Linked DNA regions of Homo sapiens: regions 2 and 3 are each linked to region 1. A link means that fine-mapping ties the variant in region 1 to the plasma level of a protein whose gene starts in the linked region. Region 1 holds a variant in brackets. A gene starts in each other region. All regions are shown on their forward strands.

Evidence for each region. PIP is the posterior inclusion probability: the model's chance that the variant is causal. The UK Biobank Pharma Proteomics Project read protein levels with antibody pairs (Olink). The fine-mapping took linkage between variants from a reference panel, not from the people measured, so its PIPs are less certain.
Region 2: it holds the start of MYOM3, and the variant in region 1 is fine-mapped to the plasma level of the MYOM3 protein (UK Biobank, PIP above 0.99).
Region 3: it holds the start of MYL3, and the variant in region 1 is fine-mapped to the plasma level of the MYL3 protein (UK Biobank, PIP 0.98).

What each region holds. Positions count from the first base shown.
Region 1 is chr11:22,246,414-22,250,651 of GRCh38, forward strand. It overlaps ANO5 (anoctamin 5), which reads left to right. Exons shown (of 22, transcript NM_213599.3): 10 at 3,824-3,958. Among named protein-coding and RNA genes, the nearest start is that of ANO5, 55 kb to the left of the region's middle. The variant A/T (reference allele first, on the strand shown) is at 3,911.
Region 2 is chr1:24,109,896-24,114,133 of GRCh38, forward strand. MYOM3 (myomesin 3) reads right to left here and starts at 2,240. Exons shown (of 37, transcript NM_152372.4): 1 at 2,136-2,240. RefSeq lists an enhancer at 2,442-2,950.
Region 3 is chr3:46,861,058-46,865,295 of GRCh38, forward strand. It overlaps MYL3 (myosin light chain 3), which reads right to left and starts at 2,387. Exons shown (of 7, transcript NM_000258.3): 1 at 2,205-2,387. The coding sequence starts at 2,333.

The DNA.
Region 1 (4,238 bases):
GTTGCAGGTAATTTGAGGATCATGACTTTCTCTGTCATGATACTGAAGGCCTGTATTGGGTTTGGGTGTTTTTCCTCTCCTTGTTGATTTCATGGGTTTTAGTAAAGGTTTTGTGGGTAGACTTGATAAAAGTTAAAATATTCTTAAAATAGAAAGAATTTGCCTGTAATCTCAGCACTTTGGAAGGCCAAGGCAGGCAGATCACTTTAGGTCAGGAGTTTGAGACGATTCTGGTCAACATGGTGAAACCCCGTTTCTACCTAAAAAATAATAATACTACTACTACAAAAATTACCCCAGCGTGGTGGCGCACACAACTGTAATCTCAGCTACTTTGGAGGCTGAGGCAGGAGAATTGCTTGAACCTGGGAAACAGAGGTTGCGATGAGCCGAGATCGCACCACTACCCTACAACCTAGCACAACAGAGTGAGACCCTGTTTCAAAAAAAAAAAAAAAAAAAAAAAGCAAAAAAGAAAAGAATTTATTCATATATGCATAATTACAATTGACACATTTCTTTTAATGAGACTTTATTAAGCATCACTACATATCAAGCAAGGTACTGTGCCTACAAAGATAATCAGATGGTGGTTTCCTAACATGAATTTGTTTGCAGGAACACACACAAATGCGTATTAGTTACAGCACAGTAATACTCCAAACAAAATACAGAGGGAAAAGCACCTATCTTCATGACAACCTCTAGGAAAGCTTCACAGTGCTTTTGAACTATGTCTTGAAAGATAAGTAGCAGTATAGTAGGGAAAGAAGTTAGGTAAGAATATCTCAGGCAAAGAGAACACACAAGAGCATTGTGTGTTTGTTTAGTTCTTCAAGTAGGAGTGTTGGCAAAGAAGATTTGAATGTTCACCAGGAACAAAATCCTGAAGAACAATGCTGAAGTAAAAAGATGAAGCTTTGAAGGAAGAAAAGGATATTGCTCAATTTTTCTTTAGAAACATCATTTTATTGGAAACAAAAGATAATTTAGATGGATATAAGATTGAACTCAGGGAAGTAAAGGCTGTTAAAATTGTCCAGCAATAAATTTTGGAGGTCTTTTCAAGGCATTGACAACAGGAAGGAGAGGAGACTATGAATTAGAAAAAATATTTTTATGACAGAATTCATTGGCCCTAATGGATTATTGGATATGGAGGACAAAAATAAGGAAGACAGAATGATAGGGTGTCTAGAAAGAGATACAGTTTATAGGAATCTGAGTTCCTAGATTTCACATATTTCATGTTACCTCTATACCAAACATCACTTTAATGTCCAGATATCTGGAAGTGGTTTTTCTGCCTTTTGAGCACAGATAGTTTTGTCACATTAGATAATATTTTTGGGGAAAATGGCAATGCTAAGATTGAGAAAAATGGGCTGATGGAGCATATAAAGTTGAAGACTGATCACTGGCACATCAGCTCTATCAGCTCATTTTTTTTTCCTTCCAGCTTACACTTCAGGTAATTTGTTTTTGATATCCATATGTTGTATGTTAATGCTTAGAAACAAAATTGAAATACTGCTACATACTAAATAGCATAGACTAAATATATGTGTGGTACAGATAATGTTATTACAATGTGAGGATAATACTGAAGCTAAGTTTCTCAGATGTTTATGGATTCATTGTAAAAATAAGTCATTTTAGAAAAAAATGTTTGCATTGATTGATTTATCAAGATTGTATTCAATTTAATTCTATCATCATTCTTTTGATTATTTACTATGTCTTCAACTAAATATTACATCTTGGAAATACAAAATGAGAGCAGTCCCCTCACACAGTATCTAACACACATCTACCTATCAGATGCTGTGTTAAATGGTGCAGTGCCACAGATCAGTTGAAAGTCTAATAATTAAAATGGACAGGTTAAAAAAGATCATAGATTTAAATATATGGCATATTTTTCTAAAAAATAATACTCAAAAGAAGGCTCTCCCTATATTTGAGCTTTTGTAGAGTGTCTCATGTTATTAGATTTCTCTTATTTTCTTAGTTATGACTAACAAGATAGTTTAAATTAAATATTAAATGTGATTTCAATAATGTATGCATTTTTACCATATTGCAAATCTAAGAAATATCTCCTGCTTTCTGAGATCCTGAAAGATTATTTCGTTGTTAATCTGTTACTGTTAGATACCCAAGTCCAAAGTTTAGTAAGATAATTTGTATATTTCCACATGTAATAAATACTTACCTGATTTCATTTAGTAAATTCTCAGCAATTTCTTTTTTTGACAGGTTTAGAGTTCTTGAGGGATTTTGTTTTTTATGCTCAAGGAATAAGACTTGTGACAATTGAAAAGGAGAAAAAAGTAGTACTTTAAAACTAAGATTGTTGAAATATCCAGTTTCCTTATGAATACTTAAAGAATTTTTAAGTTAAGTCTATAGCAATAATGTTGATATTATATTTCTAATAACATTGATTCTGCCATTTTTAAAACATTAAAAATAGACATGGTAAACAGTAAATTTCATAAAATATATTTTTGTACTTTTTCTGATTTTGATGTCATGTACTATTACAATAATTTCTACATTTTTCAGAAAAAAACTGGGAGAAAAAGTTCATTCACTCTGAGTAAGCTAAGGAAGTTGTGAATGGCAGATTAGCAAGGGAATATGATGGCATTATAATTTAATTTCAAGTTTATAGTGATCTGGAAAACCAAATTAGGGAAATTAACAATGCAACAATGTTCATCATCACTGAAAAGAATGAAAAAAGACAGGATAAACAGAAAGATGCCTATTAATATTAAGAGTGTTGAAATATGAAGAATGGGATGTTCAATAAAGTTAATATTGAATATGATAAATACATTTTAAAATCTCATTGAGAAAAAATGTTTATAACCTTTATGTTCAGATATGTGTTCTTGTTAAGCATATATAGAAATTACAATTTAATATTAAGTACTTTCACAGAATCATATGGCATGCTACTAGAACACAAAAGGTATCACATCTTTCTGCCTAGGAAACTGTGGAAAGACTCACAGATTTGGTGAGCTGGGATCTATATGAATAAGGAGGAAGATTAATCAGGTTAAACAACAACAACAAGAAAACCTGACTTTCTGAGGAGGAGAAAACTACTTTCTCTCATTCCTAAATGGGTACTAAGTTAAAAACAAAACACTTGGTTGTGAGAATTAAAATGTTGTGCCGATAAACGCTGTCACTTTTCAATTCTTTGAAAACCAAGAGCTAGGCTGCATATTTCATAGAATTTTTGCTAAAGTAGTCATGTTTAATTCCTTGGCCTGCTGCATATGTCACAATCCTGTAAACATCCAAGATTCAAACTTGGAGAAAGATGGAAATGTATATCTACAATGCGGTCAGAGAAATGTTTTCAGTTTTAGAGAGATAAAGCAAAAGTCCATGCAGATTTTGGATATGGTTTTGATTTGTTAAGTTCATTCCTAGAAATTACATTGTAGAATATTCTGTAGTTTATTTAAAAACCATTTAAATTCTCTTTATAATACAGAGGCTTTCCAAATTATCTTATTTAAATTTTAAAGTTAAATTCCGTTTAATTGGCTTTCTACTTATATCTGTTATCCCTTTTAATCCTTGTATCAGTCCTTGCAGTATGGCATAAGCACCATCTTGTGTTAAAACATGATAATGATATGGAAACTGAAGTTTAGAGAGTTGAGTAACTTCACCAAAATTACATGTCTAGAAAGCAGTGGAGCCAAAATTAGAATATATGCCTGTCTGAATACAAAATCAAGGCTCCAGACTATAACATTCTTCCATATTCTGATTCTGTTTTTACTCTTTTTCACAGGAATTATTATGGAGAAAAAATTGGTATCTATTTTGTCTTTCTTGGATTTTACACAGAAATGCTATTCTTTGCAGCTGTAGTTGGCTT[A/T]GCTTGTTTTATTTATGGCTTATTATCAATGGAACATAACACAAGCAGGTAAGTGCACCTGAGTTGCCCAGATAGAGAAAACATCTTTATCTTGTGCCAAATGAAGTTGTTGTTATTATTTCCCTGGCATTTCCTTCAGAATGTTTCCTTATAGCAGCAGATAATCGATATTTTCCAAAAACTACTCAAACATAACAGTTGCCTCTCACCTGGTGCTTTATGGAAAATCTGTTTTTAAAGCTGGGCTCTGAAAACTCTACTCCTCAAAGCATGACTTGACCCACTATAGAAATTGCTGCTTGATTGCCCCTTCTGTTATATGTGAGAA
Region 2 (4,238 bases), not on the chromosome of region 1:
TTGCAATGTACACATCTCCTTTGCATTCCCAAGGCTCAAGTCTAGGCCCGTGATGGCGCCCAGTGGGGCCGGATCAGATTGACCCAGGGGAGGCTCAGGAAGCGGATCCATGGATATGGAGAGGCAAACGAGGGGTGTGGGAGGCCCGTGTGCCCGCTGGCTGTGGGTTTTTGCACTGAGTTTTCTCATATCCGGGCTTCAGTCACTGCTGGGTCTCTGAGGGCCCCCCTGATGCTAAAGCTAAAATCCCTGGAATGGCTTTCACACCTCCTCCAGGTGGGAATCCTGGTCTGCAGGCTTCTGGCATGGGAGGGTTCCTGCCCAGGCGTGGGGATGGAAACAGAAGAGGGATGACCGCCTGCCTTGGCCTGCTCCTGTCAGCTTCTGTGGGGTCAGCTCTGTCTGGCCCCTGCCTCTCTAGAGGGTCCTGCTGGAGGTGGCAGCGTGTGTGTGTGTGGGCGTGCATGTGTGTGTATGTGTGTGTGTGCGTGCATGTGTAGGCTGTCTTCTGCCTGGATGTGAACACAGCACCTAGGTGACCATTTCTCTAAGTCCATGGCATGGAAGGTGAGCCCACTGGCTTTATTGGAGAGCCGTTGGCCTGGAAGGGGCATGTGGTGGAGGTGTCTGGGGCTCGGGCTGTGGAGGGTCAGTCTTAGTGGGCTTTTACCCCTTCTACTTCCTAGAAGTTTGCTCCTTTTGGGTGTCTGCAGTTGTGGGCATCAGGAAAAAGAGAATGGATGGCTGCAGGGTTAGCTGGGACCAAGGGCTGCCCCCTAAAGCTCCCTGGGCTCCTGCTAATCATCTCAAATGACATAATGGGACAGTCACCCTCTTTGGCTTCGTATCACTCCCTCCCGATGGAAGAAGTTCTCTTTGCACCCAAAGAAGTGGCTAGCCCTGCTCATTCTGCTCTTTCTTCCTCATGGCCCAGGAGGAGAGCTGCTGGGTACCACCCTAGGTGGAGCAAGGACCCCCCACTCTGCCCCAGCTTTCCTGGGACACGATGGCCCTGGCTCCAGTGGCTGAGAGTTAACATTCCCTGGCACCAGCCACTGGCTCCCTTCCCCTGGATGCTCTGTTCCCGATTAGCACAGCAGGCAGGGGCCTGGCGCTCGTCCCTGACCTCGGGGCCTCCAGCAACCAGACCCCTGGCTTTAGCGGATGAGCTACCAATTCTTTTTAAAGCACTGACTGATGCGTGGTATTAAGCAGGGACAAGTTTGCGGCCTCACTGCCCTTTCCCAAAGGACCAGGGTGCCTCTTCCCGGAACACTGTGTGTGCCTGCGTGGAGGGGAAACTGCCCCCGCTTCCCTCTCTTGGGGTGCAAAAATCTGGGCCAGAGGTCCCACTGCGTGGCCTTCCCTATTCCCCTCTGCTTTCCTCCCAAGCCTCCATCTGCCGAGGAGGCCTCTCCCCTTCTTCAGGAGGGAAAGAGGAATGCACAGCAGTTGAGCCAAGACCCCTCCAGGAGCTGCGATGGGGGCGGATGGTGGCTGGGAGCAGAGACACATCCTGCGGGCGGCGGGTGGCACAGGCTGGGACGTGTTCTTAGCCAGTGGCTCCACCAGCTTCCGCGAGGCCGAATCCTGCCCTTGCCAGTCATGAGCTGAGGCAACTCCTTTCCCGTCTGGGCCTCGGTTTCCTGTCAGGCACTGGATGAAATCCCTTCCAGCTCTAAGATTTGGGATCCGAGGGCTCGCTCTCTTTCCCTGCCTGTGGGGTTGGCCAAGCCGGGCTCAGCCAGCTCCGCTCTAAGTTCGTGGAACTTGCCAGCTTAGCCTGGCTCCCGCTTATCGCTGCTCCATCACAGGAAAGACTCCAGTTCCCAGGGCAGCCCCCACTCTTTTTTTTTTTTTTGCAACTTTCACATCACAGACAGCTCAGCTCTCAGAAGACCCAGGGCCACACAGAACAGTGGGATGGGGCAGGGGTTTCTGGAATCCCCTCCCATTTTCACTTGGGTGCTGCCTCAGCACAAATTTCCCAGGCTCCTTTCACAACACACAACACACATACACACAAACACACACACGTGCACACACACACACACATGCACCCACAGATATCACTCCCCAGTGGCTGACTCTTAGGAGGCATCCCTCCCCCACCCTGATTTCTGGGGGTGACTCACAGAAGCAGTGTGCCCACTTAGGAGTCTCTGGGGAGAAGATTCCTGAGGCCGAGAGGGTCCTTGTTCTCTTCTTGCCCTCGGCTCAGCGGGCACCGGGAGAAGAATGCGATCCCGGAGACTGCACCGTCTTAAATATAGCAGCACTGAGACAGTACAATGACAATGGATGAGAACTATGGCATCGGGGACAGGGGGCCAAGGGGAGGGGCCATTCCGTGTCTCCAGCCTGCTGGGCAGCAGCGACAGGTGGAGCTGTCCGCCGCGTCCCCCCACACTGCTCCTCCTCTCAGCTGGGTCCTTTCTGCCCAACCCAAGCCCCTGTTAAAATGGAAAGGAGGGAACGGCTCAGGCATGGTCGTATGGAGGGCAGATCCCGTGCGGCGTTCTCAGCTGTCGGGAGTTCTGATCTGAATTCTGCCCCGGCTGACTGGGTGCCCTGGGGAAGGCGCTCAGCTTCCCTGAACTGACTGCCTTCTGAAAAACGGAGACAGTGAGACTGGGCACCTGGACTTCATGAAGACGGTGGAAGGAATATGACCTAAAAGTGAGTGTTTCGTGCTCAGAAGTTGTCACTGGCTAAAACAGCAATGTGTGGCTCCTGGTCCCTCCACCACTCCGGTAGTTACTACACGGCCCCCGCCCTGACCACAGTCATGTGTGTGTGGTGTGGTGCAGGCAGGAGGAGCTGGGGAGCCACCTACTGCTTCACTGTGCAAACTGCTCAGGCTGCCAGAGTGTCCCCTGAAGGGCCTTCTTATAGGGTAAACGCACCTGACAGGGATAACTGAAGCACGCTCCAAGAATGACCCTGTGTGGAAGACCTGAATATGTGTTCCGAGCTAAGGAATCTGGGGAGTAGCCAACCCGTTTCTTACCTACGATGAATATCTGAGCCCCCGTCCCGTCCCTTCTGGTGGAACGCTGGCCATACAGGGGATTGAGGCCCTGAGTTTTGGGTTAAATGAAGATTGCCAGGTGGAGGTCATTAGGGGATGGTGTAAAGTGAAAATGCTCTATAAACTGCATGCTGTTTGCAAGGGGCTGAGGTTTTCCTGCCCAGTCGGCCGCCACTGGTATGTTGTCCAGCCCGCCGCCCCTGGACCATTTCTGTATGTAAGGCGGTTCTCCTGTCCAGTTCATCACCAGTGGACTCTCTCTCCTGTAGGCAAGCCCCTAACAAACCCCCACGTTCCTTCCTTTCCTTCCTTCCCTTCCTTCTCTCCCTTTCTTTTTCTTTCTTTCTTTCTTTCTTTCTTTCTTTCTTTCTTTCTTTCTTTCTTTCTTTCTTTCTTTCTTTCTTTCTTTCTTCTTTCTCTTTCCTTCCTTCCTTCCTTCTTTCCTTCTTTCCCTCCCCCCCTCCTTCCTTCCTTCCTTCCTTCTCTCTCTCTTTCTTTCTTTCTTTCTTTCCTTCTTTCCTTCTTTCTTTCCTTCTTGAGTCAGAGTCTCACTTTGTTGTCCAGGCTGGAGTGCAGTGGCATGATCTCAGCTCACTGCAACCTCCGCCTCCTGAAACCCCCATGTTCCGTTTGCTGGCTATGGATCTTTTCTTTGGCCTCTCAAACCTGGTGCCTTCCCTACTGAGGTTAATAGGTGTTCGGCACCACACCTCTTCCCACCCTTTGCCCTCTCCTGCCATTCCCTCAGTCTCAATTCTTTCCCCCTCACATTCATTGGCACCTACCCTATGCCAGACCCTAACCTACAGGGGAAGTCAGGCACTTACGACAGGAGGTGATCAGGAAGGTGCACCTGGGTCGAGTCTCAGAGGATGAGCCGGTGAGGGGAAGGCTGTACCGGCCCCTAGCCAGAGAGCACAGCTTCCCTCCCTCACCCCTTCCTGCGACCTCAGGTGGCCACCCACACTACACCTGTCACTCTTGCTGGTGCCTCAGGGACTCCTCACTCGAGAGAAGGAGAGAGAGAGCACAAGTGAACTTTGCAGGCAAAATCTGAATCCCCTGCCCTATTTGAAAACCCCTTTCTAAGCTCTTCTGTGGCTCTCTCTTACAGCATCTTTTGGGAGAGAACATTTCTCTCCCATCTTCTATTGACCCAATCGAACAAGGGCTTTCCAAGACTCATCTTCATACATTTGCTGTGAGG
Region 3 (4,238 bases), not on the chromosome of region 1:
GTGGCCAGCCCAGAATGTCAACTGTCTCAGCCTGTCCCATTCCAGCATCCCAGCCTGCACCCCCAGGACCTCCTGCAGTCCATCTTGACGCCCTCCTGCCTCCTTGCCCCCCTCCACCTCTCCAGCCAGAAGGCCTTGAGGCTGTGTGCACCGAGGCCCTGATGCTCGGTGGACCCTGGCAGGGGTAGCAGTGAGGAGGGAGGCCACATGCCCAAGGCCTCAGGCCAGCGTGGGCCTTACCTGATGCTCCCGGTTCTGGACAGATGTACCTTAAGCCACAAGCCCCAGTCAGGCTGGCTTTGCTTGGGGCCTGGTGGGCAGGACTGTCAGCAAAAGTGAGATGGGAGGGCCCAGGGTGGTAGAAGGAGTAAGGGCAATGGTACAGGCCGAGGGCTGGTGGCTGGAAGCATCGAGGGTGAGCACAAGTGTGCATGTTTGTGTGTGAGCATGTGTCTACATACGTCTGCCCTCACAGAGCCCCCTAAGCCCTAAAGACCAGGCAGTCACTCACCAGCCCCACTATACCTATTTCTCACACACCCTGTCCGTAGGTCCCTGGGAAGCTCCCACACCCCAGGACAGCACAGGGCCAGGGCAGTGCTGCTGAGTGTTTGCTGAAGTCACATTGGGGCCACCTTGATTGACGTCAATCAAGAGGCCTCCCGGGATCCAGTGTCCCCCTCCTCACCGGATACCAGGTCTATTTTTATCACTGCAGTCACTCGCCCCAAGGTCAAGGTCACACAAGGGAAAGGAGGTTGGGGGAGGGGCATGACTGGCGTCTCTCTCATGGCTGCTGCCACGGAGCCCCACCAATCTCCACAGTGCATGCCGGCACAGAGGGACACCCTGTTCAGGGCCACCCTACCATGACTGTCCCTCCTGGCTTCTGGCTTGACCCAGTGTTGGGAAGAACAGGTTGTCATTCCTGGCTCCCTGAGAGCTCTCTCCACCAGGAAGCCTACTGAGATTAGGGTCTCTGGGCTCCTGGCAAAGGCTCCCTGCCCTTTACCTGCAACCTGGGGATGGGGGAAGAGGGCGCATGAGGGGTCTCATTGTCCCCACCTCTCAGAAGGAAGTCTGTGCCAACCTAAGGCCTGGCGAGAAAGGACAATGCCACTATGGGCCGTGGCTGTGGTCACAGCCTCACCATGAGGCCTGCAGAATGCAAGCCTGGGACCTGGGTGGCCAACTCCAGGTGCATATACTCTGAATGGTTCCCAGCAGCCCTGCAAGAGGGGACTTGCTGTTCTGTTTCACAGCTGAGGAAACCACGCCTCAGAGCAGCGAAGAACTTGGCAACTAAAATGGAGCAGAGTTGGGATTTGAACCCTTGCCTCAAAGGACATGGTAGGTGTCTCTGGGAAGGGCTCATGAACAGGAGGCAAGACTTCACCGATGGAATGTAGGTCCTGCTGGGCATGCAGGGATGGCGAGGGTTCCACAGGGCTCCTGAGGAGGCAGCCAGGGCAGCAGTGGTCCCAGCCAAGAACAGGGAGCAGGCAGGACACAGGGTACGTGCTGCTATGCAGATACCACAGGTGGGAGTCATGGCTCCCTCCAAGTTTAGACTCTGAGAAAGACTTTGCAGTTGGGGAAGGGCTCCTGGGGCCACTGGTCATAGCTCCATGACCAGCTTCCTGCACAGCTTTCAGAATGTCCCCAGCCAGCTGATGCTTCAAGTTCCCTACCTAAAAGCTGAGGCCTGGAAGTGCTCTACCAGCTCTGGGCTCGGTGATTTGAACGAGACCCAGCCTGGACAGGGGCCCTGCTTCTTCTTACTCCCTATCTCATCCACGCTGGGAGCGTGTATGGACTTGGGACCCCTCAGCTGAACAAGGAAAATCCCTGCCTGGCTCCAGCTGACTCCAGGATTCCCCAAGGATGAGAAGTCCAGGAAGAAGGGCAAGGGAGAGTCCATTTCCAAAACCACTAAAAAGACAGTCCAGACTCAAACCCCAGTCTAGACTCCACCTTAGTTCTCAGCAGCACCAGAGGAGTCCTGCAGAACGTCTGACCACCATCCCTCCTGCTGCAGCCCTTCTGATGCCTGAAGCAGTCAGGGCTTGTCTGACCTCTGCACAGAAGCTTCCAGCGTCAGCTCAGTGCTCACCTCCAGAGCCTGACCTGCCTCTTGCTAGGTCCACTCTGGGATCCACTCACTTGCCCTGCTCCTATTGCCACCACCCAGCTTCCATACCCACCTTGATCTTGGAAGCATCAAACTCGACCTCCTTAGGGCGCTCAGGCTCAGGGGGAGGTGCGGGAGCTGGAGCTGCCTTGGGGGCTGCCTTGGCATCATCCTTCTTGGGCTCTGGCTTTTTGGGGGCCATTGGGGGCTGTAAGTACAGAGAGGGATGTGGAGAGAAGAATGCAGAAAGCAGGGTAGGTGAGCCGCCTCACCCAGGCCTTTATCCTGCCCGGATACCTCATGACCCCAGCCCCACCCCTGCAGTGCACAATAGGGACAGGGCCATAAAAGGATATGGCTAGGCTTAGGGGCTATTTTGGGGCCTGGGGAGGGCATTGTTCAGGCTCAGGAATGGGTAGTGGAGGAGGGATCTCCATTCCTCCCAATCACCTGTTGGGAAGGGGGAGGGAGAGAGGGGGACAAAGGCCACTGCTTAACACACACATACACACATACACACACACTCATCTGCACACCCGCACATACCCACACAGGGCCCTGCTGCCTCTCTGCAGGTCCGTAAGTTGAAGAGGTGAAGAAGGGTGGACCAAGTACATGCTACGTGTTGTGTTGGGGCCAGAAGGACTGGGATGATCTAAGGGCACCTCTGAACTTAAGCTCTCCAAAGTCCCCTGTGTCTGTGTCTGTGTCTATGACCGTGTCCATGTGGGGGAAGGCGGAAGTCAGCATGTGTCTGTGTGTGTTGTCTGTGTCTGTGTCGGGGTGTCTATGTGTCTGTGGGTCTCTCTGTGTCTGTGTTTGTGTGGAGGGGGGTCTGTGTACACCTGTGTGTATTGTCTGGGTGCCTCCGTGGTGGGGGGCTCTGTGCGTGCCTATGTGTGCTCCGTATCTGTGTCTATGTAAGGGATGGCCCGGGTGTCTGCATTTGTCTCTGTGGGTCTGGGTCTTTATGTGTGCGTGGTGTGTCTATGTGTCTATGTGAGTGTGTCTGCGGGTGTTGCTTCTGTGTGTTTATGTCTGGGTGTTTACATGTGTCTGTATGTGAGTGTCTGGTCATGGCAGGCAGCTGTAGCCCTGGCTATGGGTCCAAGGGTCTCCAGGAACCCCCACAAAGGGCAAGAGAAAGGATGCTGCTCCCTCTAGGGCAGTCGCCCCAGGCCAGTTCAGCAGCCTCCCTCTTCAGCCCCTGCTGGCCCAGGGACCAGTTTCTCAGCTTTCACCCCTAGATTCCTACTTCCCCTCTCTACAGGCCCCAGGGATGCACATTTCCCTACACACCCCAGGCCTGGCTCCCCACTGCACCCTCTGCCCAGAGTGCCCTCGCCCCCTCTGCCTGACATATTCAAGGCTTGGCTCTACTGGCCCTCTTCCAGAAAGCTCTCTCCAATGCTATTCCACTGCCACATGTTGCCCTCTGCCGACCCTTTTGGCAGGGGCTCTGAGAGGGTCTGCCTCTCTGAGGAACCCCAAGCTGCCAAGCAGGGTCTGCCCCAGTGCAGTGATGCTCATTCCCTGTTCCTACCACTCAGTGCCCACCCCCAGTGCCCATCCTGCAGTGCCCGGCCCCCAGGGTCCATCCCAAGCCCAGCCTTCAGCAGATGACAGTGACAGAGTACAGCCTGACGGGACTGCCACTTGGGGAGGTGGGAGGGCTGAGGTGGCACAAGGCTCTTCCCGCATGGGGACGCCAACAGTGGGGACATCTTGTAAACACATTGGGCTCTGTTCCTTGCCCAGCATCTGTGCCTGGGGGGTGGGAAGGAGGTGCTCCTGGTTACTTTTAAGTGCCTGGAGCCTTTGATAGAAACTTCAAAGCCAGGGATTTCCCTGGTGTGGCAAGGGGCTAAGCCTGAGGCTGAGAGGTGCTGTGGGGCCCAGGGCCTCTACCTGGCACGCCCTGCTGTCTTCCTACTGGGCCCAGTCCCTCTCATCCTGTCACTCCGCCTCACAGGGAGGGACAGCAGTCCAGGGCTGGGGCCAGCCCGCTCCTGACTGGAACACGTTCTGCCTCTCATCTGGAGGGCAGAACACCCACATCTGGAAATCTGACAACATCCGGGACTGGCGGGGGGGCAAGTTTTTCACT